Regions from separate parts of the Homo sapiens genome. Here regions 1, 2, 3, 4, 6 and 7 are each reported to be linked to region 5. Evidence: microRNA targets listed by miRTarBase, many of them from high-throughput screens and not tested one by one. Region 5 holds a microRNA gene; each other region holds the end of a gene's coding sequence. Distances are from middle to middle.

The links. The annotated mature microRNA hsa-miR-26b-5p reads UUCAAGUAAUUCAGGAUAGGU and lies in region 5 at 2,502-2,522, shown strand. An mRNA with a match to its seed (bases 2 to 7 or 8) in the 3' UTR can be bound and repressed. Matches are read on the target gene's strand: a 7mer-m8 pairs with bases 2 to 8, a 7mer-A1 pairs with bases 2 to 7 and ends in A, and an 8mer does both.
Region 1: miRTarBase lists RNF2 as a target of hsa-miR-26b-5p. The part of its 3' UTR that is shown has no 7-base or 8-base seed match.
Region 2: the mRNA of FAM98A is a reported target of hsa-miR-26b-5p. Seed matches in the 3' UTR shown: 8mer at 3,277-3,284 and 8mer at 2,829-2,836.
Region 3: miRTarBase lists NMRK2 as a target of hsa-miR-26b-5p. The part of its 3' UTR that is shown has no 7-base or 8-base seed match.
Region 4: the mRNA of DSC1 is a reported target of hsa-miR-26b-5p. The part of its 3' UTR that is shown has no 7-base or 8-base seed match.
Region 6: the mRNA of ST8SIA2 is a reported target of hsa-miR-26b-5p. The part of its 3' UTR that is shown has no 7-base or 8-base seed match.
Region 7: the mRNA of CCDC144A is a reported target of hsa-miR-26b-5p. The part of its 3' UTR that is shown has no 7-base or 8-base seed match.

What each region holds. Positions count from the first base shown.
Region 1 is chr1:185,100,096-185,104,161 of GRCh38, forward strand. RNF2 (ring finger protein 2) reads left to right here. Exons shown (of 7, transcript NM_007212.4): 7 at 105-2,508. The coding sequence ends at 206. Among named protein-coding and RNA genes, the nearest start is that of TRMT1L, 55 kb to the right of the region's middle.
Region 2 is chr2:33,581,181-33,585,247 of GRCh38, forward strand. It overlaps FAM98A (family with sequence similarity 98 member A), which reads right to left. Exons shown (of 8, transcript NM_015475.5): 8 at 2,480-4,067. The coding sequence ends at 3,596. Among named protein-coding and RNA genes, the nearest start is that of RASGRP3-AS1, 14 kb to the left of the region's middle. RefSeq lists an enhancer at 2,269-3,088.
Region 3 is chr19:3,941,559-3,945,625 of GRCh38, forward strand. It overlaps NMRK2 (nicotinamide riboside kinase 2), which reads left to right. Exons shown (of 8, transcript NM_170678.3): 8 at 525-858. The coding sequence ends at 715. Among named protein-coding and RNA genes, the nearest start is that of NMRK2, 11 kb to the left of the region's middle.
Region 4 is chr18:31,126,843-31,130,909 of GRCh38, forward strand. It overlaps DSC1 (desmocollin 1), which reads right to left. Exons shown (of 16, transcript NM_024421.2): 16 at 2,394-3,869. The coding sequence ends at 3,672. The region is part of intron 2 of DSCAS (DSC1/DSC2 antisense RNA); the gene reads left to right. Among named protein-coding and RNA genes, the nearest start is that of DSC2, 26 kb to the left of the region's middle.
Region 5 is chr2:218,400,156-218,404,222 of GRCh38, forward strand. It overlaps MIR26B (microRNA 26b), which reads left to right and starts at 2,491; the gene lies at 2,491-2,567. It overlaps CTDSP1 (CTD small phosphatase 1), which reads left to right. Exons shown (of 7, transcript NM_021198.3): 1 at 1-2; 2 at 1,409-1,557; 3 at 1,956-2,060; 4 at 2,194-2,250; 5 at 2,880-2,972; 6 at 3,077-3,262. RefSeq lists a silencer at 1-160.
Region 6 is chr15:92,463,951-92,468,017 of GRCh38, forward strand. It overlaps ST8SIA2 (ST8 alpha-N-acetyl-neuraminide alpha-2,8-sialyltransferase 2), which reads left to right. Exons shown (of 6, transcript NM_006011.4): 6 at 150-4,067. The coding sequence ends at 435. Among named protein-coding and RNA genes, the nearest start is that of C15orf32, 5.7 kb to the right of the region's middle.
Region 7 is chr17:16,773,263-16,777,329 of GRCh38, reverse strand. It overlaps CCDC144A (coiled-coil domain containing 144A), which reads right to left. Exons shown (of 17, transcript NM_001382000.1): 17 at 1-3,833. The coding sequence ends at 3,697. Among named protein-coding and RNA genes, the nearest start is that of FAM106C, 14 kb to the left of the region's middle.

The DNA.
Region 1 (4,066 bases), not on the chromosome of region 5:
AAGATTTGAAAAAAAAAGATTCTGTGGACTTCCATTTTAGTTTCATTTCATTATTATTGTGGTTTGTGCAGTTTTCATAATTTTTTCTTTCTTTTTTGTTTTAGGTATTAAATGGCTCTTTTTCTTTGGAATTGGTCAGTGAGAAATACTGGAAAGTGAACAAACCCATGGAACTTTATTACGCACCTACAAAGGAGCACAAATGAGCCTTTAAAAACCAATTCTGAGACTGAACTTTTTTATAGCCTATTTCTTTAATATTAAAGATGTACTGGCATTACTTTTATGGACAGATCTTGGATATGTTGTTCAATTTTCTTTCTGAGCCAGACTAGTTTACGCTATTCAAATCTTTTCCCCTTTATTTAAGATTTCCTTTTTGGAAGGGACTGCAATTATTCAGTATTTTTTTCTTTCCTTTAAAAAAATATATCTGAAGTTTCTTGTGTTTTTTTTTTTCCCCACAAAGTGTGTTTCCACTTGGAGCACCATTTTGACCCAGGAATTTTTCATAGTTTCTGTATTCTTATAAGATTCAGTTGGCTGTCCTTTTCCTGCTCCCCTCAAAAGATTTTTAGTCATACAGAATGTTAAATATTATGTATTCTGACTTTTTTTTTCCCCCGGAGTCTTGTATATTTATAGTTTTCTATATAAACTGTAGTATCTTCATGAAGACCCAAGGCTCAAATTTACTGTCCTTAAAAACAATTCTCATAGGATTATTCTTTTCATGGTATTTTCTTCCATAATATCTCATTTTAAAAAGAAGTTCTTTATGAACTTAGTGTCCATTGTCATGCAATGTTTTTTTTTTTCCATTCTTTTTCCCTGTAATTTTGGAATTTCTGGTCCTGGGAAGAATCAAACAAAATCTTAAGTTCTATGAGAACTTGGTTCATTGACATATTCTGCTGAAGAAAGAAAAATTAAATTGGTAGTAAAATATAGTCTTCAAGTATACGTTTGAGAGTGCTTTTTTTTGTATTAGTTCTGCTGTCACTTCATTTCCTGTATTATATGTGATGTTTTTCCCCATTAAAATACCAGAGATAATGGAGATATTTTGCACTTTAGCCTTGATGAAAAGTACAAGATATGTTCAAAGCTTCCCTAATTTTTTTCTTATTTGTAGCCACATAAGTTTCAAGAATAACATGGCACACAGAACAATGGAAAAAAGTTTGTTTCCATTGGAAAATTATATCATTTTGGGTTGCCACATCAGTTTATAAATTTGGCGCTCTTTTAATTACACTCTGTAGAAGGTTAATAGAGCTTGAGCCCTGCTTTAATATGTAGTGAAAGATAATTCTGTAGAAAAACGTCAGCCAGTAGGGTAAAGTCATTCTACTGTTCTTAATTTTTATATTGAGGAACAATATTGGGTGTTTGGGAGCCAGAAAGCTTTGTTGACAGATCAGAAATAAGATTGACTTGGGTGTTATATTTCATCTCTCTCCAGACTCTAGGTATATTTCCAACTTTATATATCACAGTATTTAAAAAGACATGTTTGCATTGAGAAATTAACCCTAAAGGGTTTTCAATAGGGTGTAGACCTCCAGTACCTTTGTAACTAAAGTCTGTCTAGTCATTGTAAATATTTATCTGTCAGTTTTGACAGATTGGGGCCAGCTTGATGTTTTAAATCTTCAGCCCGGTATGAAAACTTAAAGGTATATATTCAATTTTTTACCATTTTATGGAAAATATTTAAAATCTGTTTTTACAGGGTTTTTTTTTTTTTTTTTTTTTTGTAATCTGTGCCATGAAATTTGAAAACCACCAAAAATCAAGGGAACTTTTATATATTCAATTCCTTTTCTGGTGTAATGTTAAAGTTGTATAGATTATTAATGCATGCCCACTGAATATAACCCTGGTTTTGTGATAAAACTGCTTAGATTTTGTTGATGACATTAGATTAGTAGTTGCATTAAATAACTAAATTCCCATTGTGATTAATTGAAATTTTGTCTTTAAGCAGAGAGTTATTTGTGACTATAAGCTTTGTGCTTAGAGAATGTATGTGTTTTTATCTGTCAGTATGGGAGGATATAAACTGCATCATTAGTGAAATTATTGGTTGTGTAATCCTTTGTGAAATATAATTCTAGGTATTTGATAGGGTATTGAGTGTATTTTGTGTGTGTGTGGATGTGTGTTTTGGGGTACGGGGAGAGGCGATGCTATTGGCCATCACTACCAACCAGGGTTTCAAAAAGTATTACCTAAGTAATTTCTTTTATCACTATCTCAACTGAGGAAGAAAAGGCTCACCACAAGTGGTGTGAAGGCTTTGGGTACTTAGTTCTAAATTTTTTTATGGTAACATATACATAGCCACATTTACAGTTTTAACCATTTTAAGGCATGTAATTCAGTGGGGTTAGGTACATTCACAATGTTGTGTAATGATCACCGCTGTCTACTTGTAAAACTTTTTCATCACCCCAAACAGAAACTCTGTGTGCAATTAAAGTAATGCATTTCTCTTCTTCTTAACCCCTAGCAACCTCTATTCTACTTTCTCTTTTTGAATTTGTCTATTTTAGGTGCCTCATGGCACCTGTGGAATCACACATTATTTTCAAGGTTCATGTGATAGCATATATCAGAATTTCATTCCTATTTATGGCTGAATAATATTGTATGTATGTGCCACATTTTGTTTATCCATTCATCTGTTGATGGAGACTTTTGGTATTGTGAATAATACTGCAGTGAACATTATTATAGAAGTATATAATTGAGTTCTGCCTTCTGTTATTTTGGGTATATATGAAGGAATAGAATTACTGCATCATATGATAATTCTATGTTTAATTTTTTGAGGGACTCCAAACTGTTTTCCATAGCAGCTTCATTATTTTACATTCCTGCCACCAATGAACAAGCGTTCTGGCTTTTCCGTATCCTCTGTAACACTTGTTATTTTCTTTTCTTCTTTTTAAAATAACTATATTAATGGGTATCCTTATGATAGCTGTCTTACTGGATGTCTCCTTTCATTGTGGTTTTAATTTGCATTTCCCTAACAGCTTGTGATGCTGAGCATCTTTTTCTGTACTTGCTGGCCATTTGTGTATTTTCTGTGGAGAAATGTGTATGTGTATTCAAGTCCTTCACCCATTTTTGACTGGGTTCTGTTATTGTTGAGTTGTGGGCATTCTTTATTCTAGTTAGTAATCCATTATCAGATACATGATTTGCAAATATTTTCTCCCATTCTTTGGGTTTTCTTTTGATTCCCTTGATAGTGTCCTTTGATGTACAGAATTTTTTTTATTTTGGTGAAGTCTAGTGTATCTGTCTTTTTTCTTTTGGCTATGCTATTGGTGTCATATTCAAGAAGATTGCCAAACCCAATGTCATGAAGATTTTCCTCTTTTAAGAGTTTTATAGTTTTAGCTCTTAGTCTTTGATCCATTGTGAGTTTTGTATATGGTGAAAGGTCAGTGTCCAGCTTTGTTCATTTGTATTTGGATATCCAGTTTTCTTAGCCTTTTCTCCACTGAATGATCTTGGTGCTCTTGTTCTAAATCATATGTGAGGGTTTATTTCTGGATGTTGTATTCCATTGGTCTATATGTTTGTCCTTATGCCAGTACTACACTATTTTGATTACTTTAGCTTTGTAATAAATTTTGCATTATATCATTTCTAACCCTTTGAACCTTAGGAAGACAGTATTTCCTTTGTGTACATTTGAGAAGACAAAGGCTCAGGATTCTGATTTGGATAACTAAATGTGAAGTAACTGAAATGCCAAGTGAGAAAAGGCATCTCTTAAATTCCCATTTCTATTCAGAAAAGTTTAAGTTTCCCCCAAAATAGCCTCAAAACTCCCCAAAAATCACACTCCAGTGAATTATCACTCTTGGCCTTTCTGGAACCTCACTGAAAAGCTCTTTTTCTCTGAGCGTGTCTTTGACTGGACTCAGCTCACTTTGCTTAAAAAGCTCTATCTTCATGGTGTTTGTAAAAAATCGTTCCTGCCGTTGTTTAACACAGCAGTTGCCTGAGGCATGTGGGCCTAAAAAGCAGCTGACTAAAAAGTAGG
Region 2 (4,067 bases), 180 Mb from region 5:
ACAGGAAAATAAGAAGTCATAAAATGCTAAGTATTCTGTGATGAATGTACTTTTTCATTCAGGTAAACTCATTTTTTTATTTAGGTAAAATACAAATAAATACCTAAATTTTATTTAGGTAACCCTCTCTGTTAAAAAACAAATGGATCAAATGCTATCCAAATTACCTAAAGTGGGAGGCGGGGGTATGATTAAATAATATAAACATATTTAAAAACTATTTTCAAAAGGATGTAATATAGGTAGACAAAGTATCCAGAAAGATACAATGGGCACAACCTAAAAATATTTAAGTCTAAGGATGGAGGTAATCTGGGCACTGGGAAATCAATTAAGTATATATAGAAATGATTCAAATGCCTTCCCTCAGCAAGAATTTGCCTATTCTATGTCTACCACAGTTGGACACTAGATTAGTTTGGATCTACAGCAAGAAATAAAAATGATAGTGGTATATCTTTAATAGTTTTCATAGAGAATACTGACATCCTATTCTAGTTCCTAGTAGTAGGAGGAAACAGAACATTAACTAAAGGTACTGTCTGTCTCACTGTATCCGTTTTAAGAGATAACAGTTTAAGATATCATGTTAAAAATTCTCTCCTAATATTTTTCGCTTGTTTCTCCAAGAAATTCTCATATGCCCTATATTCCAGTAAATCATTATTTACAAGTTAAGGTTAAGAATGCATATAAGATCAAAAGATACTCTCTATACAAAACCTAAGAACTTTAATATAACAATAAAACTAACTGGTGGTTTGAAATATCCTGTTTCTAGAGAACTTGATCTATGTTCAAGAGAAAAAACTCAATTCTTTTATGGTTTCAGAATGGGGAGAGGCGGGGGAGGAACAGCAAACGCTGGTAAGGTTCCAGAGAAAAGGGAACACTTATACACTGTTGGTGGGAGTGCAAATTAGTTCAACCATTGTGGAAATCAGTATGGCGATTCTTCAAAGAGCTAAAAGCAGAACTACCATTCGGCCCAGCAATCCCATTACTGGGTATACATCCAGAGGAATATAAATCACTCTACCATAAAGACACATGCACGCATATATTCACTGCAGCACTATTCACAATAGGAAAGACACGGAATCAACCTAAATGCCCATCAATGACCAACTGGATAAAGAAAATGTGGTACATGTACACACCATAAAATACCATATAGCCATAAAAAAGAATGAGATCCTGTCTTTTGCAGGAACAAGGCTGGAACTGGAGGCCATTATCCTTAGCAAACTGACACAGGAACAGAAAACCAAATACCACATATTCTCACTTATAAGTGGGAGCTAAATGATGAAGACGCATGAACACAAAAGAGGGAAACAACAGATAGGGGTCTACTTGAGGGTGGAGGGTGGGAGGAACTAGAGGAACAGAAAAGATAACCTTCGGGTGTTGGGCTTAATACCTGGATGATGAAATAGTCTGTACAACAAACCGCTGTGACACAAGTTTACCTGTATAACAAACCTTCACATGTACCCCTGAACATAGAAGTTTTTTAAAAAATAATAATGTTGGGGGAAAATCTAGTTTGAAGCAGGAGCTGCAGATTTCAGAACTATCAGGGCGAAATGTATCATTTGTGTTCTTACATCCTTATATTCGAAAAAGCAATCTATTAACCGTAAAGATAAATCAAAATATTTTTCAAAAGAATGAAACCTGTATTCATTAGCTATATTGTGGAGTCTGAGGCTACAAAACAGATCAAAGCAAATACTAAATATAAATACATCCTAAGATATGATACATTTAAAATATGAAACCTTGACAATTTTAATAGGAAATCCTATATAAACATAATTACTTAACAGTTTAAAGAAACCAACACAACATTCAAGACAACTTAAAACCTTAACTTACTTTAATGATAAAACACTTGAAATTGTCTTCAAATTTGAACATTTTAAAATAATTGTAAATGTTAGCTGAAAAATAAACAGGTAAAGTTAAAAGGATCAATGTGGGTTTTCAAAGATGGTTTTAGTATTAGAAGAATGTGCTTATCTCAGTAGCAAGTAGATTATTTTAAATGGCATGACATGAGTTGATTCTTTAAAAAAGCCCAATTTAGTAGAAAGGAAATACAATTTCTCTTTTGATAAACATATTTATATTTTCAGTTACTTCCTTTTTTAAAAAAAGTCCCCCAATCTTAGGAAGAATGGAGAAGCAAATAACAAAAAAACCCTAAAAACATTTTTGCCTAGTATGTGTAGCAACAGCTACACCCAGTGGCCAGAGATGAGTGGTGACGGTTTCTAGCTATATTATTATAAAAGGAAAACCTGGAAAGAGCCATTTTTCCATTTATTTAAGGTTTTAGGATAAAAGTCACCTTTCACTAAAATTAGGTTTTAAGGAAATACTCAAGAATCTTTGGGAACAAAAGCCTTAGCTCATCAGCTTGACGCAAGAGTCCAGAATAATTCAGTAGCTAAAATAAAACTCAAACCAAAGAGAGAACTTAACAGATACTTTATTGCTCACCTTTCACACAAAGCACACCTCCAGCCATTTTCTTTCACAGCTTGACAATGTTTACATGTACAAAAACCCAGCAAGAAGCATCATGTCATGTAGATTTCAGTAAGGGAGAATGTAAAACATCAACTCAGCCAGGCTTTTGTTTTCTGCAGCAATAATAAAGGGCCTCCTGCACTTAGCAAAAATCTGTCTTAACTTTGTAGTGCATTTCTTCCATTACAAAAAAAGTTACCTGCTTAAAGCAAACTAACTTGTATTTGCTGAGCCAGTGGTATTAACTCATGCATAAAACAAATTTCGGTTTGCTATTTCTTCTAGCAAATTTCAAGTAAAAATAAGGTTGAAGGAGGAATTTGTTTTGGATGGATGCAGGTCAGTTTGAATTGCTATACTTAACTAAATGCCTACATGTACTATAGCTTCACAACTTAGTTTGCTTTTATAATCTTTATGGATTTTGGCCGTGTTCAAGGTTTTCAGAGTTGAGCATATGATACAGTATTCCATCAACAAAATAAGGCTACTGAATGTGCTATCTGCAAAAGAGCTCATTTAATAGGAACTGACCTAAAAGTTCCATCATGAAGCACACGTGGCATAAAAGTCAACCGGGGGGCAGAACTGTGCTTGGAAAATAGGCATTGGAATACTTTAAGCAAAACACATATAAATGGTTATTCATATGAGGAAGGTTTCCTAGTAGTAAATCTAAAAAAGTCTAGGTGAATCCTCATTTTCAAAACTGCATATTGAAAACATGAAAACTACTTATTCAAGTAATTTCTTCAAAAAAGTTTGCATGTTCTGACTGTGGAATTAGTCTACTGGGCAATTAAAGGCAATTTTAACCACCTTTTAAAAAATTTTTCATAGAAAGGAGAGATGTTATGTGTTTCTCAAATAAACGGCATTATGTAAGTCCAATAAAAAAATCTAACAGAATTGAATGAAGACCTACAAATGCTTATGCCAAGCAGGAATCTGCCTGCCACCTGTGGTCTCACATTAATTCAAAATAGGTGCTGAATTCAGGATTCTGAAACTAAGTTTCTATTACTTGAGCTCTAGCAAAATGTAAGGTTCGGTAGCCTCAACTAGTGTAATGTCTTCCCTGTCCAAATCCAGAATGATTATACTGATAACCTCCATGCTGGAAATGCTGTTCAAATTGACCCCCTTGGTGATAATTCTGGCTCCCTCTTCCTCCCCAGCCTCCTCCCTGGCCTGCACGACCACCTCGGCCTCCACGACCACCTCGCCCACCACGACCACCACCACGATCACCATGGTGCCCGCCATCTTGGTATCTATTGTCCTGCTGGTAGCCACCACCCTGGTATCCACTTCCTGTATATGAAGAAGATGTTTGGAAGCCACCATAACCTCCGCCTTGATAGCCACCACTGCTGTGGCCACCATGATAGCCACCTGGCTGGAAACCTGAATCTCGATAACCACCATCTTGGTAGCCACCTCCTCCACCACTCCCTCCATCTGTCCAGCCTCCTTGATGCTTATTTCCTCTTCCTCCCCCTCGGCCACCATGGTCATAGCCACCACGT
Region 3 (4,067 bases), not on the chromosome of region 5:
CTAAACGCCCTTCAGTACTCCCCACTCAGGACCTTTGGAAACCTGGACATTCCTCCGTGAGCCTCGCCCCCAGTCCCTCTTGCTATTTTTGTTGTTGTTGTTTAGACGGAGTCTTGTTCTGTCGCCCAGGCTGGAGTGCAGTGGCGCGATCTTGGCTCACGGCAATCTCCGCCTCCCGGGTTCAAGCCTTTCCCCTGCCTCAGCCTCCTGAATAGCTGGGATTACAGGCGCGCGTCACCACACCCATCTAATTTTTGTATTTTTAGTAGAGATGGGGTTTCACCCTGTTGGCCAGGCTGGTTTCGAACTCCTGACCTCGTGATCCGCCTGCCTCGGCCTCCCAAAGTGCTAGGATTACAGGTGTGAGCCACCGCGCCCGGCCCCCTCTTGCTGTTGGTCCAGGAAACTGACTCCAGCAGCCCGACTCTGCAGATCTCCTTGCTCCTGACCCAGCCGTCCACTCGTCCCCCCGTGCTCTGGCCCCCTTCCTCCCGGCAGCCCTGACGCAGCCTTTCTGATTTCAGTCTACCTGGACGGCATGAAGTCCCGAGAGGAGCTCTTCCGTGAAGTCCTGGAAGACATTCAGAACTCGCTGCTGAACCGCTCCCAGGAATCAGCCCCCTCCCCGGCTCGCCCAGCCAGGACACAGGGACCCGGACGCGGATGCGGCCACAGAACGGCCAGGCCTGCAGCGTCCCAGCAGGACAGCATGTGAGCGTTTCCCTATGGGGGTGTCTGTACGTAGGAGAGTGGAGGCCCCACTCCCAGTTGGGCGTCCCGGAGCTCAGGGACTGAGCCCCAAGACGCCTCTGTAACCTCGCTGCAGCTTCAGTAGTAAACTGGGTCCTGTTTTTTTAACTGTTGGTGTCTACCGTGTTCTGTCTAAGATCCGTCAGGCCAGGTGCAGTGGCTCACGCCTGTAATCCCAGCAGTTTGGGAGGCCGAGGAGGGCGGATTGCCTGAGGTCAGGAGTTCAAGACCAGCCAGGCCAGGATGGCAAAACCCTGTCTCTACTAAAAATACAAAAATTAGCCAGGCATGGTGGTGCATGCCTGTAATCCCAGCTACTTGGGAGGCCGAGGCAGGAGAATCGCTTGAACCCGGGAGGCAGAGGTTGCAGGGAGCCGAGATCGCACTACTGCACTCCAGCCTGGGTGACAGAGCAAGATCCGTCTCAAAAAAAAAAAAAATTAAAAATTAGCTGGGCATGGTGGTATACCTGTGTAGCCTCAGCTACACAGGAGGCTGAGACAGGAGGATTGCTTGAGCCCAAGAGGTTGAGGCTGCAGTGAGCTATGATCAGGCCACTGCACTCCAGCCTGGGTGACAATGCGATAACCTGTCTCAAAAAAATTTTTTTTCTCAATGCCTATAAATAAAGTTTTATTGGCACCCGGCCCCTGCCATTTGTACGTGTCAGCCCTGTGGCTGCTTTAGTACTACAATAGCATGTTGAGTCACCCTGACAGAGAAGGTCTGTCTGCAAAGCCAAAAATATTTACTATTTGCCCCTCTGTGCAAAATGTGTGCTGAACGGTGTGGTGTATGCCAGGTCGAGTCCAGGGCCACAGGGAGGGTCTGAGGTCTCCGTGCTGGAGGGGAAGCAGGAGTGGATATGGAATGGGAGGATGACGTGGAAGAGGTGGCTTGCCAAGGCTTCTCCTTCCCCATAAGCACAGAGTGTGGTAAGGATGATCTGCCGGTCACTGTGCCCAAAATAGTCCAGGACAGGACAGAGACATGAGGGAGGTGGTTCCAGGACAGCAGAAGCCCTGCCTGGCAGCCCAGATACCTTGGGCATTATTGTTCTTTTAAAAAAAAAAGAAAGGTTCATGCCTGTAATCCCAGCACTTTGGGAGGTTGAGGGGGGAGGATCACTTAAGCCCCGGAGTTCCAGTCCAGCCTGGGCAAGATAGTGAGACCCCCATCTCTACAAAAAATGATAAAATATTAGCAAGGCGTGGTAGCCCATGCCTGTAATCCCAGCACTTTGGGAGGCCAAGGAGGTGAATTGCTTGAGCCCAGGAGTTTGAAACCAGCCTGGGCAACAGAGTGAGACCCCGTTTCTGTTTTTATTTTTCTGTATTTATTTTTACTTAGTTATTTATTTTTGAGATGGAGTCTCGGTCTGTCGCCCAGGCTGGAGTGCAGTGGCGTGATCTCGGCTCACGGCAATCTCCACCTCCCAGGTTCAAGCAATTCTCCTGCCTCAGCCTCCCAAGTAGCTGGGATCACAGGCATGCACCACCACGCCCAGCTAATTTTTGTATGTTTAGTAAAGACGGGGTTTCGCCATGTTGGCCAGGCTGGTCTCGAACTCCTGACTTCAGGTGATCCACCCGCCTAGGCCCCCCAAAATGCTGGGATTACAGACGTGAAACACCATGCCCGGCTGTGAGACCCCGTTTCTACAAAAAATTAGCCAGGCATGATGACACATGTCTGTAGTCTCAGCTACTCGGGAGGCTGAGGTGGGAGGATCCCTTGAGCCCAGAAAGTTGAGGCTGCAATGAGTTATGATTGCATGACTACACTCCAGGCTGGGCGACAGAGCAAGACCCTATCTCAAAAAAAAAAAAAAAAAAAAACAAAACAAGAAGGGGAACAGTAGCCACAGGGTAACCAACCAAAAAACGGAAGATGATAAGGGTTGGCCAGGATGTGGAGAGAGCAAAACCCTTATGCTCTGAGGTGGGAAATGGAACACAGTGAGCCTGACGAGAAACAGTCTGGCCGTTTCTCAGAATTAAACATGGAATTACCATAGGGCCTAGCAATCCTGCTCCTGGGCAAGGCCCCAAGGAATTCACAGCAGGGACTCAAAGAGATCCTTGCACAGCCATGTTCATGGGGGCACAGCCCACAACAGCCAAAAGGTAGAGGCAACCCAAGTGTCCACAGACAGATGAATGAATGAACACAATGTACTCCATCCGTACATGAATATTACTGAGCCATGAAAAGGAAGGGAATCTGGACACAGGGCACAACAGGATGATCCTTGAAGATGTCACGCTCCGTGAAATAAGCCAAGGCCGGGCATGGTGGCTCACCCTTGTAATCCCAACACTTTGGGAAGCGGAGAGGGGTGGATCACCTGTGGTCAGGAGTTCAAGACCAGCCTGGTCAACATGGCAAAACCCCGTCTCTACTAAAAATACAAAAATTAGCTGGGCATGGCGGTGGCGTGCCTGTAGTCCCAGCTACTTGAGAGGCTGAGGCAGGAGAATCACTTGAACCCAGGAAGTAAAGGTTGCAGTGAGCCAAGATTGCGCCATTGCACTCCAGCCTGGGCAACAGAACAAGACTCCATCTCAAAAAAAAAAAAAAAAAAAGGGAAGGAAGGGAGGGAGGGAGGGAGGGAGGAAGCTGGGCGTAGTCGCTCACACCTGTGAATCCCAGCACTTTGGGAGGCTGAGACTGGAGGAGCCAAGGAGTTTGAGATCAGCCTGGACAATATAGCAAGACCCTGTCTCTACTTTTAAAAAAAATACTGGGGGGCTAGAGCAGTGGCTCACGCCTATAATCCCAGCACTTTGAGAAGCCAAGGCAGGAGGATCGCTTGAGCCCAGGAGTCTGAGACCAGACTAGGCAACATAGTGAGACCCTGTTTCTTTTTTTAATTTAAAATGTTATTCTTGGCCGGGCACAGTGGCTCATGCCTGTAATCTCAGCACTTTGGGAGACCAAGGCACCCAGATCACTTGAGGTTAGGAGTTCGAGACCAACCTGGCCAACATGGTGAAACCCCGTCTCTGCTAAAAATACAAAAATTAGCTGGGTGTGGTGGTGCACACCTGTAATCCCAGCTATTTGGGAGGCTGAGACAGGAGAATCACTTGAACCCAGGAGGCGGAGATTGCAGTGAGCCAAGATTGCACCACTGCTCTCCAGCTGGGGTGACAGAGGGAGATTCCATCTCAAAAAAATAAATTTAAATTTAAAAAGTAAAATAAAATATTTTTAATTAAAACAACTTTTTTGGCCAGGCGCGGTGGCTCACTCCTGTAATCCCAGGACTTTGGGTGGCTGAGGCAGGCAGATCATGAGGTCAGGAGTTTGAGACC
Region 4 (4,067 bases), not on the chromosome of region 5:
TAGGGGAGGCAAAGCCAAGTAAGGAAATCCTTTCATTTCCACTTTTGATTAGAGGGTTTCTTTTAGTTTTTCTTGAACTCTACCTGGTAGAAAATAACATTAATTTTAGGCAAATTAAAACTTCAGATATCTCAAATGAAGCCTTGAGTTTTTTTAGTGTTAATAATTCCACAGTATATCATTTAGAAGTCTCTAAACATAGACAAATAGAATTCCACAGTTACAGGTATCAAATTGTTGCACACTGACAACCAAATTTTTAAAATGTTGAAATCCTACATATTCTCAGGCAAATGCAGACCACAGGAAAACCACATTTGTCTTTCATTGTTTTTTTTTTCTCTAAAGTTAGGGAATAAACAACTGCTAACTCTGTAGATTGATTTATGAAAGGATATTTTATTTCGGTCAATCAAAAAACTTACTTTAAGAAGTGAATATCTTAAAATAATAAAAGACTTAACTTCATAAGATATATATTATAAATGCACTTCACACATTTGTTTTTATAATCCTTCTAATACACTTAAATTAGTCTATTTAAAATAACTATTTTTAAAAAGTTATTTTGGTTTTGGTAGTAAGGATTTGAGGTAATATAATGTGATTTTTATTTTTTATGTAAACATTTTTTTGAAGAGTTTTGAAAAATTACGCTAACTTAATTTTATTGGGCCCTATAAAATATGCAAGAATCTATCCATTCTTAGTAACGTTTTCTTCTGCTATACTTCTTTATTTTCTTCTTTTCTACAAAAGCAGAAAGACAAATGCAGTGTCTAGTCAAATGCAACACTCCTTCAGATTTATTAGAAAAGCAGATAAAAGAGAGTAGAAAAATGCAGCAATATACATTGTTTGTTTCATTACCCTAATTTCATTTAGGTTTTTCAACTAGTACAGAACTTTCATAACTACCATGCAATAAAAAGAGGGCTTTTCTGTGATAATAAAAATCTTTGACTCTAAAACATCTATTTTGAGCATTTTCTAAATAACACAGCATATGACTTTTCTGAAAGTAAATATATGCATAGATGTCAAGTTGTATGAAATACTTTTAATAAACACAGGAGTAAGCAGAAGTTCAGTAAAATTAGGACATGTCTAATGAAGCTCACTTATAAAATTACATTGATTTTCATCTACCCTGGTGTTCTCATGAAATTTTTTCACATGAAATATTTGAGATCTGAAATAAGATAAGAAAATTTAACTGTATATCTTCCTCAATACTGATTTAATTCTAGAAAAACCAGTCATAACTATTAACTTATTAACTGACAATTAAGTTTTATGAAATAAATCCATGAAATGCAATCTTTTATTAACAAATGAAATTTGTAAGCAATCTGATAGAGTGTCACATATTTTATCAAACATACAATTAACATTTAATTTTGGGAGTAAACAGAGAATGATTTTGAATTGCCTAAGTAAACCAAAAGACAGTCAAAGTTTCTCTGAGATAAACTCTAATGATATTTTGAAAATATTTTAAATGGCCAAAACTGTTTAATACAAATTTATTTCTCACACTTTCTAATAATTTTTCAAATGCTTTTGGAGTATCTTCTCTTGCTGACTGAGCTATCTACCTCTGGATATTAATTATTACATTTTGAATGTAGGTAGAAATTGTTCTTGGAGTAACTAAAAATCATTAGCTGAAATTTAACTTACATATGTTCGTTTGTCTTCATATTTCTTTTCACTTGCTTAATTATGGGAAAGAAAATGTATATCTGAACATAAAAGTACAATTAAAGTTAAGGTTCAGTTAATGATTTTTAATTACTCCAAGAACATTTTGTACCTACATTCAAGAATGTAACTTTTTATGATAAATGTCCAAATTTATATTATATTTTAAAATTTTAGAACTGATATTATCAGAGCAACCTGTACATCAGAGAACAAAAATTGCATGACCACAAAAATATTTTATAATGGTTATAAAAATTATATGTTATGGATACCTTATAAAATCTGATTTATTAAAATCACTTTTTTCTTCTGATCCAATATCCAATTTCATATCAAGAAGCGCCTTTAATTTGGAACTGAGAATTAGAAGACTAGTCACAAAATTTTTTTAAAAAGCCACTCATTTTTAAAAATAGTTAACTAGTTAGAAAATATCTAGTTAATAGATTTTTTTAAGTCTTTGTTTTTTCTGGATGAGAAATTTCCATACTGTTATTGTTTATAGACTTATAGAGTTTGCCACAAATGACTACGAAAATGCTATTTAAATATATAGTTTCTTTTTAGATTAATAAAATATACTATCCTATTAAAATGTTATACATTCAAAATTATTTCTGAATGTGTGCGTTCATTTATTCATCATTCTACAAATGTTTGGTAAGTGTTGCTGTAATTGATTTCAATTTTTTTTTTTTTTTTTGAGACGGAGTTTCGCTCTTGTTGCCCAGGCTGGAGTGCAGTGGCAATCTCGGCTCACTGCAACCTCCGCCTCCTGGATTCAAGCGATTCTCCTGCCTCAGCCTCCTGAGTAGCTGGGATTACAGTCATTCGCCACCATGTCCGGCTAATTTCTTATATTTTTAGTAGAGTGGGGGTTTCTCATATACATTCTAGTCCCTAATTCTGACTGCCCATTTTCTTAAAGTAACTGTAAATTTAGGCTGAGTCTTAAGTTCTAATACAGATGGTAATTCAATTTCTGGCATATTCAAGGTGCTAGTCTCTGTATATCAGAGTTGCAGCCTAATGCATCAGGGCTAGTTGTCCAAATGCTTGGAGATGGCAGGTGGCAACCACAGATAAGGCAGGCCTATGTCAAACTCAAGAGTGAATGTTTTTGCTAAAGTATTTATATTTTTAAAATGTTAGTAGTAAACCATGTTGAGCAAACGAAACATATTTGTGAGCATAAGTCAACCCATGGACCTCAGGGCTGCAATTCTTTCATGGAAATCTTCTCATGTAATCTTCATAAAATCTCTGCCCCTCAATTTGCTATGAGCTTGTTCTGGTCCTTATCTTTCCAAGAACCCTAGAAGTTGGAGTGACCTAACAACAAATCCACATGGGCAGAGGTCCAGGGACTGAGCTCTGAAGGATCCTGAAAGAAAACAATGCTGGGAGCACTGCTCTGAGGAGTACAAAAGTGTAAAAGAGAAATGAACTTAATCACAAAACTGAAGATTGCACTGAAGAATACTTAAAAGTCCTTTTTAAACCACTCAGGTGGAGAGAATGCAATTATCTGGCACCAACTATGTTCTAAGAACATAATTCTCCCCAAGATTTTGAAGAACATATTTAATTCGTACATCTACAATGCAAATTCATCTTTCATTGGCCTCTATAATACCCAGCTTTCCCAAATGCTCTTCCACAGCACAAAAAGTAACATCAGTTTGCAAATAAAAGGTGCAAGAAGGTGTACAGTACAGTCGTGAAAAGGGCAATATATACATGCATATAAAAGAGAATTAACAAACAAAACCTTGATTTCTAGAGAACATGGAAGTTATACCAGACAAGGAGAATGTAGGGGAATCTCATATTTATAGTACCCTTACCTATACATGACAAAGTTTACCTCCATAAACAAAAACATTAGCAGATGCTGCTAACATTCTGCAAGTAATAAATTCCTACTTATGCATCTGTGGATATTACACTATTAAAAGGCACATTTATTTCTTGATGCATGTCTTTGCTAATGTCCTAAATTTGGGTTCCAGGTGATCTAGAAACTCCAGTCCCTCTTCTTCCTGCCGATCGCTGCAGCAACCTACTGAGCCGGCCAGAGAACCTTTGCCTTCATAGTTATACGAACAAACGTAGTCTTCACAATGTTTATGCTCCTCATCTTGTCCACACAAATACACCTTCTGTATCAAAAAAGAGCACATTTTATTATTTTTTAAAAAACACCTAAACATATTAGCAGAAAAATGATGTCTTTGATTTACCTTTTACTGTTTAATTTTTAATCAGAGTGTGTCCTCTAATGGATTCCTATATATAAAAAATGCACAGGATTGGTCTGTATTATAGTCACTCTTAAAATATAGCAAATAAATAAATGC
Region 5 (4,067 bases):
AGGTACCGGGGCTGCGGGGAGGGGGCCGAAGCCGGGGCGCCGTGGGAGGAGAGAAGGGGCCGGGATCTTCCCCAGGGGAGCCGCCGCCGCCGCCCCGGGCGGCCGCCTTAGCTGTGCCCGAAGCTCCCAGCCCGAGAGGGAGCAGGGAGAGAGTTTGAACTCAGAGGAGGCTCAGAGACGCGGGGCGGGGCCTGGCGCCTTTGGGGCGCTCCTGTTCGCTCGAGGTGAGGAAACTGAGGCAGGAATAGAGAGGGAACTCTTCGGGGGTTTCCTGGCAGGCATTGCGTGGTGCATGGGCGCCCCCCCACCATTGGCGCCAATGGGGCTGGGAGATGGGGGAGCTGAGGAGGGCGCCTATGGGCCACCCGCTGAGACTCCGCCCCACCCCCCACCCCCACCCCCCCGGGCTGCGGTCCGGTAGGGTCTTGGGAGGGGGCGCCGAGGTGACAGCAGGCTGGGGAGGCTTGGAGGGATCTCCCGCCAACACACAGCTACGTTCCCCACAAACTTCGCGTCACGCGTGGAGGCGCCGACCCCCTCGGAGGCACAGAGAGGACGGCCGGCACTTCCAAGAGTCGCTTGGCGCCCGCGGGGAGAGTCGTGCGCCTAGTGGGCACGCACCACCCCGCAAAGCCTCGCCGCCCCGACGAGGCTGCGTCCCCCAGCGTGGCTGGGCCGGGGTGGGGGGGTCTGTCTTCTCCTTTTCCCCGTGTGGACCTCAGGATCTGGACGCTGCCCCCAGGTCTGCCCACCCTCGCCTGGGTCTGGCTGCCCCGGAACTGAGGGCAAGGTGGAAAGGCTAGTTGCAGGGGGCCGGAGGGGGGTGGGGTGGGAGGGGTATCTGTCAATCAGGCTGCTGGGCTCCAGGTCGGAGGTCTGGGCGGGGCAGGGCAAACAGATGGCCACTGGACACTGGCCCCAGGCCGCGGGACTGCACCCCTGCCTCTGGGCCCAGCCGCAGTGAGGACTTCGTACCCACGGGGGTGGAGAGGATGGAGGGAGGGCAGGGGTGGACTGCCCTGGGTCCCAGGCCCTGGCTGTCCTGAGCAGGGGTGCTCAGGTAAGGTGGGGTCAGGAGGCACCGCAATGGGGCTGATCAGCAGCAGTCATGGAGGCTGTGAGAGGCAGGGAGAGAGCACCCCAGGACCTCCTTCTCCAGGCCACGCACTCCCTATGTGGGCGCCTTAATACCTGCTAGACCTATTTGTCTGGGAGCTGCAGGAGCCTTGCAGTTGATTGTGGAGCCCTGACAGGGGCGTTTCAGAGAAAGTCAGGAGCTGCCTTCGTGTGTCTGGATGAAGGGGCCACGGCAAGATCCTCCTGGCTCAGGGGTTCACACCTGGGCACACATGCAGGATTCTGCAGGCCAGTGTGCACCGAGCCTCCAACTTGTGCCTCCCTACTTCAGGTGACCAGAAGTCAGCAGCTTCCCAGAAGCCCCGAAGCCGGGGCATCCTCCACTCACTCTTCTGCTGTGTCTGCCGGGATGATGGGGAGGCCCTGCCTGCTCACAGCGGGGCGCCCCTGCTTGTGGAGGAGAATGGCGCCATCCCTAAGGTGCGTGGGGGCCAGGTGGGGCCACGGGGGCACCTGGACTCAGTCTTCAGGGCTTTAGGGGAAGGGGCTCCTGACTGAGCTTTTCAGGATGGACTTGCAGACCTGAAAGGTGCAGAGTAGGAGGGTGGCAGCCTCCCCTGCCAGGCCCTGCCCACTGTGGGGAAACTGAATTCTCCCTCATAAGTGGAAGCTTTTTCCTACCTTGGTTTTTAGAGAGGTCTCAAAGAGCCAAGAGGCCTACCCAAGCCCTAGAGCTGGCAGGGGCAAAGCTGGGAAGGGGGAAGTATCTGTTCCTGGGGCCTGGGGTTCCTCTGGAGACGGCTAGGGGGAGAAGCCTGCGTGGGAGGAAGGACCAGGCCCGGAGAGAGGCACCCCAGCCAGCCCCGCCCTCCCTACAGCAGACCCCAGTCCAATACCTGCTCCCTGAGGCCAAGGCCCAGGACTCAGACAAGATCTGCGTGGTCATCGACCTGGACGAGACCCTGGTGCACAGCTCCTTCAAGGTGGGCCCTGCTCAACAGCCCTCAGCCCGGGTCTCGGGGGGCATCCCCCACCCTGGCCTGGGAGGGAGGTGTGTGCTGGACCCCATGCCCTGGGGCTCCTCCTCCAACTCCAGCAGCTCTTTTCCCCCCACAGCCAGTGAACAACGCGGACTTCATCATCCCTGTGGAGATTGATGGGGTGGTCCACCAGGTGAGGGCCAGGAAGAGGCAGTGGTGGGCTTGGCATCTGCCTCCAGACCCTAGGCTCTTCCCACCAATCCGGAGCGCCTCGGATGGGAATTGGATACATGTGGAATGTCAGAGGCCCAGAGAGGGTGTGAGACTTGTCCCAAAGTCACACAGAACCTCAAGGGCTTGTGCTGACTCCAAGCCTGCAGAGTGGGCTCCTCCTCTAGGCTCCCCCGTGCTGTGCTCCCTCGCCCCACCCTGCCCGGGACCCAGTTCAAGTAATTCAGGATAGGTTGTGTGCTGTCCAGCCTGTTCTCCATTACTTGGCTCGGGGACCGGTGCCCTGCAGCCTTGGGGTGAGGGGGCTGCCCCTGGATTCCTGCACTAGGCTGAGGTTGAGGCAGGGGAAGGGATTGGGAATTAGGGACCTCGTGAGGTAGGACTGGCCAGTGGAGTGGAAGTTTTGATCGTTTTCTGGCGGGGGGTGGGTACAGTTTCCCCAGCAGTGGTCAGGGTAGCTGGCCAAGCGGAGCCTGCGGGCCCAGTCTCCTTCCTGTGCGCCTCTGCCTCCCTGGCCCATGCCCTGCCAGCCCTCGGCCACCCCCACACTGCCCCACTGGCCCGCAGCCCCCTCACTGGCCCGCCCCCCAGGTCTACGTGTTGAAGCGTCCTCACGTGGATGAGTTCCTGCAGCGAATGGGCGAGCTCTTTGAATGTGTGCTGTTCACTGCTAGCCTCGCCAAGGTGAGCCCCACAGGGGTCCCGGGGCAACCCTGCCCTCCTACCTACCTCCCGCATGCAGCCCAATGAACCTGCGGGCCCCAGGATGACCCACCTCCTGCTCCCAGTACGCAGACCCAGTAGCTGACCTGCTGGACAAATGGGGGGCCTTCCGGGCCCGGCTGTTTCGAGAGTCCTGCGTCTTCCACCGGGGGAACTACGTGAAGGACCTGAGCCGGTTGGGTCGAGACCTGCGGCGGGTGCTCATCCTGGACAATTCACCTGCCTCCTATGTCTTCCATCCAGACAATGCTGTGAGTGCGGGCTGGACTGGGACTGGGACAGGAGCTGAGACCCAGGAAGGGGTCAGTCCATTCAGGCCACCTTGGCCTCTTGGATCCCCAGTTGGGGGGTGGGTGCCCTCCCAGTCCTTCCTGCATTCATTGCCTGTGCCTGCCGCCCACTCCCCTCATCCACCTGCCCTGTAGCCATATGGTCTTTTCCCCTCGCACAAAGCAGAGCATCTGCCATGCACAGGGGCCCCCACAGGGCAACGGAGTTTGGAAAGTTTCAATTTTTCGAATTGCCAGTTGTGACCTACTGATGGCCCACAGAATTAATTTAGTGGGTTCTGATTGGGAATTTTAACAAAATGAAATAGAATAGAAAATATCCGGTCGGGTGCAGTGGCTCATGCCTGTAATCCCAGCACTTTGGGAAGCTGAGGTGGGCAGGTAGCTGAGCCCAGTAGTTCAAGACCAGCCTCGGCAACATAGTGAAACCTTATGTCTACAAAAAATACAAAAACTAGCCAGGCGTGGTGGCGCATGCCTGGAGTCCCGGCTATGCAGAAGGCTGAGGTAGGAGTATCACTTGAGCCCTGGAGGCAGAGGCTGTGGTGAGCCAAGATTGTGCCACTGCACTCTAGCCTGGGCAACAGAGCAAGACCCTGCCTCAAAAAAAAAAAAAAGTATCCGAGTGCTTCGCACAGATAAGGTTAGGAATTGTGAAGCTTTTGCATTGTTACGTTATAAATGTGTTTTCCTGGGGATTGCTGTCAAAAAAGTTTGAACACTGTGGGTGAGGGGTTTTCAGAAACTGCATGATCTGAGTAGTGGC
Region 6 (4,067 bases), not on the chromosome of region 5:
TGTGGAGGGAACCAGGGATGTGTAGCTTGATCGGTCCCTGGAGTGGCAGAAGGCAGGCTGCTGGGCAGGATAAAATTTTTGTCTTCCTGGAAAGGATGACTCACAGACCCATGTTTCTTTTCTTTTTTTTTTTTTTTTTTTTTTTCCAGATACTGGCTGACCAACAAAGTCCACATCAAAAGACCCACCACCGGCCTCTTGATGTATACCCTGGCCACACGTTTCTGCAAACAAATCTACCTCTACGGCTTCTGGCCCTTTCCGCTGGATCAGAACCAGAACCCAGTCAAGTACCACTATTATGACAGCCTCAAGTATGGCTACACCTCCCAGGCCAGCCCGCATACCATGCCCTTGGAGTTTAAGGCCCTCAAGAGCCTACATGAGCAGGGGGCTTTGAAACTGACTGTCGGCCAGTGCGATGGGGCCACGTAGGGTGGGCACCCCATGGGACTCAGTGGCTCACATTTCCTGCCAGCTACACCACAGGCAGATGGGAGTCGGGGTGGCACAAACAATAGAACAAGCAGGCTAGTGGTTTTCTTTGTTAAAGTGTAAAACAGTGACCAGAATATATATATCTATACCTGCATATATATATTGACCTGAGTATTTATAACTGTGTGGTGTTCATCTAGCATTAGGCAGATAGGCCACAGGAAGAAGGTGTGGAGAACCCACCTGAACCAGATTGAGACTCAATCCATCTTTGGGGGTGGAAGGACTTGACATGAAAAGAAGCCAGTCCCATGACTTTGGATGACAAACTGCCTCCTGGCTTGGAGGGATCTTTGGGCTCATGGATGAATGGCGAGCCACCTGTTGTCAGCTGCCCCAAGCCTCTGGGATATGTGGATTCGGAGAAAGCTGAGGCCCAGAGGGGACACTCGACCCAGTCTAAAGTGGGTGCCATTCACGGAGGAGAGGGAGGTTGGAGACTTCAACCGGGCAAAGGAGCACAAGGAAACCAAGCAGCAGAGGCCCCATCAGCACAGAGGGCCTCGTTCCACGAACGTAGAGTTTGACTGCCTAAGGGACAGCACGAATGACTCACATGTTTCAGACAGGCCTCCACGGCTATGGAGAGAAGGCTGGAGGAGACACAATGGATGGTTCATGTTCTGGCTTAGCAAGAGCCACCAAGAACTTTGGGTGAAGCAAGCAGATGACAATGAAGAGGAGTAATGTTCCGAATCATGTTTTTGAAAAATCAAGACCTCCTGTTAAGGGCCCACTTGACCCTAGAATAAGGCAGGAGAGTGTCTAAAATCTAGCTGCTTTGGGTGTTTTTTAAAGCAATGTGAGTCCACTGAGGAGGAAGAGACCCTGGGATTTCACCCTCTGGGTTAGTCTCTGTCTCACCCTGTTAGAATGTCACGAGGGACTGTACTGTCCCCTCTGTCACCAGGGAAGCCACAATGAGAGCTTGAAAGGGTGCTGTCAAGATAAATGTCATCCTTCTTAAAATACATATGATTGCCTTTTTGGGTGCCTCACAGAGCCCCAGAGTGTGAGACCTGAAAGAATGTTCAGCATCTAGCTCCATGTCCCTGCAACCACTCTCTGTTTGCCTTCTGCATTCTGCACTCTGCGGGGCCTTTGCAGCCAGACTGCTGTGTCAATGTTACTTTCTTGTCACTTTCCTACCCTGATGGTCACACTAGCCCACCCCAAGCTCCGACATTGAGGTTTTCATCTCTGCAGGGAGAGGTTCCAATGTCCACCCCACCCCCAGGTACCCGCCTCTTCCCACAGAAGCAATTTTAGAATTTTGCAAAATTCTTTTCCCCTTATTGAGATTAATATTTAAGATTAAAAAAAAAATACCCAAAGCCAAATGCAGTTCCAAATAGTGGACATAATCTCCCAGGGAAATCTGGGCTCGAGGCCTACAACTTAGGGGCTGGAATCACAGGTCTCACATAGAGAAATAGCCAGCTTGAATTTGTTAGTCGTATTCCTTCACCTGATGAATAACAGTGTTTTAAAACATATTTGAAAGGTAAGTAAAAAACTACCATCTTGAAGGTGAAGGGAGTTAAGAAAAGTAATCAAGACCTGCTCCTAAGCATATGAGACCAGATGTAATTAATCAATGGCAATGCAGAACAGGACCTTGGCTCTAAATTAATGGTTGACCGGAAGGGATTGGAGGCGGCAGAACCATTAACCCTACACAAGAACACTCCAGCCCAAAACCGTGAGGAAGGTGATATATCTCTGCATTTTCCCTTGTTGTTGCTTGAAGTCTGTGATTGGGGATTTGCGTTATAAAATGAATATTTTAAAAAGCAACAGCCCTAATAGCCTCTGTGGGAACTGAGTGGTTTCGGACTCCTCACAGGCGGTGGAAATAATTAATACCATATTTTATACATCTCCAGAGCCTTTCATCTTGAGGATCTCAAAGACCGTAGAAGACATTTAATTTCTAAAGCTTGAAGTGCCCCGAGGAGCAGGTAGAATTTCCAGCAGGGCCTTGGTGGATTAACCAAGGCCTTGGATTCCAGAATGTTTCATGGTAAGCACTGTGGAGAACCTACATGTCAGGTTCTGGAGTTGGCCCTGAGCTCTATCCACCAAGCCAGCACCCCACCATCCCTTTGCAGGGGAGTCAAAGGGCCAGAACTCCTTGGGGGACCAGAACATGGTTTTCCTTCTGCCTATCTTAGTCATGGCTCCTAAAATTGAAGCTGATATGAGCTGGAGTGCAAGGAGTCCTTCCACCCTGCCTTCAGGTTCTCTCTGGAGAAAGGTTAGAGACCCCAGGACAATCAACATGTGCACCGTTCCCCTCCTCGGCTTGAGTCCTGCACTACCAAAATGGCCTGGCCATTTGATGGCGGAGCTCCAGGGGCCTTGGCTTTCTCTGGCTCATTGTCCTTCTCCATCTGGGCCAATTGTCCTTCCCTGCCCATTCAGAGTTCAATTTGAGCCTCCACTGCAGTTCCTGGTGTGGGCCAGCTGGTGTTGGGTGGCCCCAGGGAGTCACACAGTCTGTACCCGGCCCCGAGATCCTCTGCTGTAACTGCAGGGTCACAGGCATCCCGGGAGAATGGGCCTCCACCCTCAGCCAGCCCTCACTGCTGACAGGCACCCCTCTGTCACCTCCTGCCACCTGTCAGATACCCAGCCTGCCCGCCATCAGCCACCCGAGTGGTTCCGACCTCCATTCACCTCAAGCCCCAACAGGCCCCTGTCATTCCACTTCATGGAAGAGACGGAGCCTTCTGAAATGAGATCTACCCTGAAAATCTCTTCTCCTTCCCCTTTCTGAGAAACGTCATCCCCACCAGTTAACGTTTCCTGTACACCCTCACCCTCTCTCGTCCATCTCTGTTGCCTCTGCACATCAGCACACACTGACTCCACCTGGGCTGGCTCCTGCCGCCTCTTCCCTACCTCCTCCACTAGCCGCAGGAAGGGCCTCCAGCACCCACAACTGCCCTTCCTCTTGATGCCCCTCGGCTTCCCCCCAGCCTGGCAGCAGCGTCCCAGCGCCTCCACATTGCCCCTCTCACCTCCCAGCTCTCCACGCCACTTGGCTCTGCAGCGACCCCTCCTAGACGCTCCCTGGCCCCTCGGCACCCAGAATGCCACATTCTTGTGTTTTTTTCCTCCTTCTTTCCCAATCCCTCTCAACCATGTATTTATTTATATATGTATGTATTTTTTTATTTATTATTTATTTATTGAAACCCCTACTTTGATTGACAAAGGAATCAAGGTAGATCTGACCAGTATTCCCCTCTCTTCTCCTTGTCCCACCACATGGACATGCCTTACACTGGCGTCCTCTCCTGAGTCCCTCCGCACTCTCCATCAGCAACCTCACACCTGCCTTCAGACCCGGCTGCAACTTCCTAAGCTGCCCCTGCCCCAGCTCCTCTCTGCAACCCAGCCCTCTCCTGAGCTCTAGGCTGGGATTACACCCGCTGGAGGGACACTCACCCCATCTGCTCCCACGGCAGCACCATCAACTCAACAAGTCAGAAGCCAAGTGGATCATCTGTGTCCCCTTCCCCCACAATCCCTCCTTTTTCTAGTAAAAGACCCGTGATCCCGTC
Region 7 (4,067 bases), not on the chromosome of region 5:
TGTTTCTTTGTTGACTTTCTGTCTTGGTGATCTGCCTAGTGCTGCCAGCGGAGTATTAACATCCCCCACTATTATTGTGTTGCCAACTACCTCATTTCTTATGTCTAGTAGTAATTGTTTTATAAATTTGGGATCTCCAGTATTAGGTGCATATATATTTAGGACTGTGATATTTTCCTGTTGAACTAGTCCTTTTATCATTATATAATGTCCCTCTTTGTCTTTTTAAAACTGCTGTTGTCTTAAAGTCCGTTTTGTCTGATATAAGAACAGCTACTCCTGCTCGCTTTTGATGTGTCCATTTAGACGAAGTGTCTTTTTCCAACCCTTTGCCTTAAGTTTATGTGAGTCCGTATGTGTTAGGTGAGTCTCCTGAAGACAGCAGCAACTTGGTTGGTGAATTCTTACCCATTCTGCCATTCTATATCTTTTAAGTGGAGCATTTAGGCCATTTACGTTCAACATTAGCATTGAGATGTGAGGTACTATTCTATTGTAACGCTATTTGTTGCCTGAGTACCTGAAAACCTGGAAGCGTTCCCTTGAAAACTGACACAAGACAAAGATGCCCTCTCTCACCACTCCTATTCAACACAGTATTAGAAATTCTCACCAAGGCAATCAGGCAAGAGAAAGAAAGAAAAGCTATTCAAATAGGAAGACAGGAAGTCAAACTATCTTTGTTTGCAGATGATATGATCCTATATCTAGAAAACTCCATCATCTCAGCTCAAAAACTTCTTAGCTGATAAGCAACTTCAACAAAGTCTCAGGATACAAAATCAATGTGCAAAAGTCACTAGCATTCCTATACACCAACAACAGGCAAGCCGAGAGAAAACTCATGAATTAACTCCCATTCACAATTGCCACAAGAAGAGTATAATACCTAGGAATACAGCTAACAAGAAAAGTGAAGGACCTTTTCAAGGATAACTATAAACCATTATTCAAAGAAATCAGAGATGACACAAACAAATGGAAAAACATATGCTCACAGACAGGAAGGTTCAATATCGTGAAAATGACCACACTGCCCAAGGCAATCTGTAAATTAAATGCTAGGCCCATTAAACTACTATTCACATTCTTTACAGACCTAGAAAAAGCTATTTTAAAATTCATATGGAACCAAAAAAGAGCCCAAATAGCCAAGACAATCCTAAGCAAGAAGAGCAAAGCTAGAGGCATCATGCTACCCAGCTTCAAACATACTACAAGACTACAGTAACCAAAACAGCATAGTGCTGGTACAAGAACCGACACATAGACCAATGGAACAGAATAGAGAACCCAGAAATAAGACCACACACCTACAACCATGTGATCTTTGACAAACCTGACAAAAGGAAGCAATGGGGAAAAGATTCCCTATTTAATAAATGGTGCTGGGAGAACTGGCTAGCCATATGCAGCAAATTGAAACGGGACCCCTTCCTTAACCCATATACAAAAGTTAACTCAAGATGGATTAAAGACTTAAATCTACAACCCAAAACTATAAAAATCCTGGAAGAAAACCTAGGCAATGCCATTCAGGACACAGGCAAGGGCAAAGATTTCATGACGAAGATGCCAAAAGCAATTGCAACAAAAGCCAAAATTGACAAATGGGATCTAATTAAACTAAAGAGCTTCTGCACAGCATTAAGAACCTATCAACAGAGTAAACCGACAACCTACAGAATGGGAGAAAATTTTTGCACTCTATCCATCTGACAAAGGTCTAATATCCAGCATCTACAAGGAACTTAAACAAATTTACAAGAAAAAAAAACTCAACCCCATTAGAAAGTGGTCAAAGGACACAAACAGACACTTTTCAAAAGAAGGCATACATGCAGCCAACAAACAAAAAAACTTCAACATCACTGATCATCTGAGAAATGCAAATCAAAACCACAATGAGACACCATCTCACAACAGTCAGAATGGCTATAATTCAAAAAAATGAAAAGATGCTGGCAAGATTATGGAGAAACAGGAATGCTTTTACACTGTTGATAGGAGTGTAAATTAGTTCAACCAGTGTGGAAGACAGTGTGGTGATTCCTCAAAGATCTAGAACCTGAAATACCATTTAACCCAGCAATCCCATTACTTGGTATATACCCAAAGGAATATAACTAATTCTAGTATAAAGATACACGCACACGTATGTTCATTGCAGCACTATTCACAATAGCAAAGACAAAGAATCAACCTAAAAGCCCATCAATGATAAACTGGATAAAGAAAATGTGGTACATATACACCATGGAATACTATGCAGCCATGAAAAGGAATGAGACATGTCCTTTGCAGGGACATGGGTGGAGCTGCAGAACATTATCCTCAGCAAACCAACGCAGAAATAGAAAATGAAATACTGCATGCTCTCACTTACAAGTGGGAGCTGAATAATGAGAACACATGGACACATGGCGGGGAACAACACACACAGGGGCATGTGGGATGGTGGCGGGTGAAAGAAGGGAGAGCATCGTGAAGAACAGCTAATGGATGCTGGGCTATTATTAATACCTAGGTGATGGGATGATCTGTGCAGCAAACCACCATGGCACATATTTACCTATGTAACAAACCTGGACATCCTGCACATCCTGCACATGTACCCCTGAACTTAAAAGATGAAAATAAAAAATAATAATAATTGCAGGTCACCTGATAGAATGCAGTGAGAAGATCATGGGATAACTTCTGTGATACTCTTGCCAAAAAAAAAATTATCATCTAAATCTTATCATAAAAAAAGTTCAGAGAAATCCAATGGAGGGACATTCTGTATTATTGGACTTTACTCTTCAAAAGATTTAAGGTCATAAAGGTCAAAGAAAAACTGAGGAACTGTTCCAGACTGAAAGAGTCATGACAACTAAATGAAATTCATGGACCTGAATGGGATCCTTCTGCTACAAAGAACATTATAGACAATTAAGAAAACTTGAAAAGAAACTGAGAATTAAATGATCAAGTGTATTGATGTTAACTTTCCGATTATGAAGTAGTTATATAAAATGTCCTGACTTGTGGGAATACCCACATACCAGATGTGATGGCATAATGTCAGCAATTTACTCTCAAATGGCCCACAGGGGGAAAGCTGTTTTTCCTAAAATGTGGAAATTTTCTCCAATTTTAAGACTGTTTCCCAAAAGTTAATCTAATAAAGAAATGAAACAATAAATAAAAAAGCAAAAAGCCTTAGGCAAACCTTATTTTTCCACAAGGAAAGATCTAAATAAATCAGTGCTTAAAATTAAAATTATCTAAGTTTGATTGCACTATAACAATCGTAATACATCCAAACATTGACAATGACCACAGTACCAGTATACCAAAATGATGTCTATCTAAACTTAAATCTATCACTATGTATAAAGATAAAATTATAAAATACAAACAAGCCATCAATTGGCTCCACTAAATTACTAATGGCAACTTGATTATTTGGCTGTTTAAACAGCAAACATTTGGGCAGTTCGAGTATGTAAAACTCAGTAATACTGGTTTTCATTTGCAAAATCCACTTAAAAGTTAGCTGAAGAGGCCAAGAAACATTATTTAAAATACTATATAAATTTTCATCAGACATGTATAATATAGAATATTTCCCTTTAGTAAAAATGTTCACATCATATATTTAATGGGAAACAAAATATCATGTGAATAGCCCAAATAAAATTGCCTTATCTTTCAGAGTATGTATTTTCTTCTTAAAATCTGTGCATATTCTTTTGTTACTTCCAAAACTGGATCTTGATTCAGATTTTCCTTGTGTGTAAATCCTAGAGGAGAAGCTATATAGGATCCAGGTTCATATTTAGTAGCAGCTGAAAAAAAAAGCAAGAATTATATTATTATTATTATTGTTATTATTTTAAGATAGGGTCTCACTCTTTCACCTATGCTGGAGTGCCATGGTGTGATCACAGGTCACTGCAGTCTTGTCCTCCCAGGCTTAAGCAATTCTCCTGCCTCAGCCCCAAGTACTTGGAACTGCAGGCATGAGCCACTGTGCCTGGCAAGCTTTTGTATTTTTTATAGGGGCAGGGTTTCGTCATGTT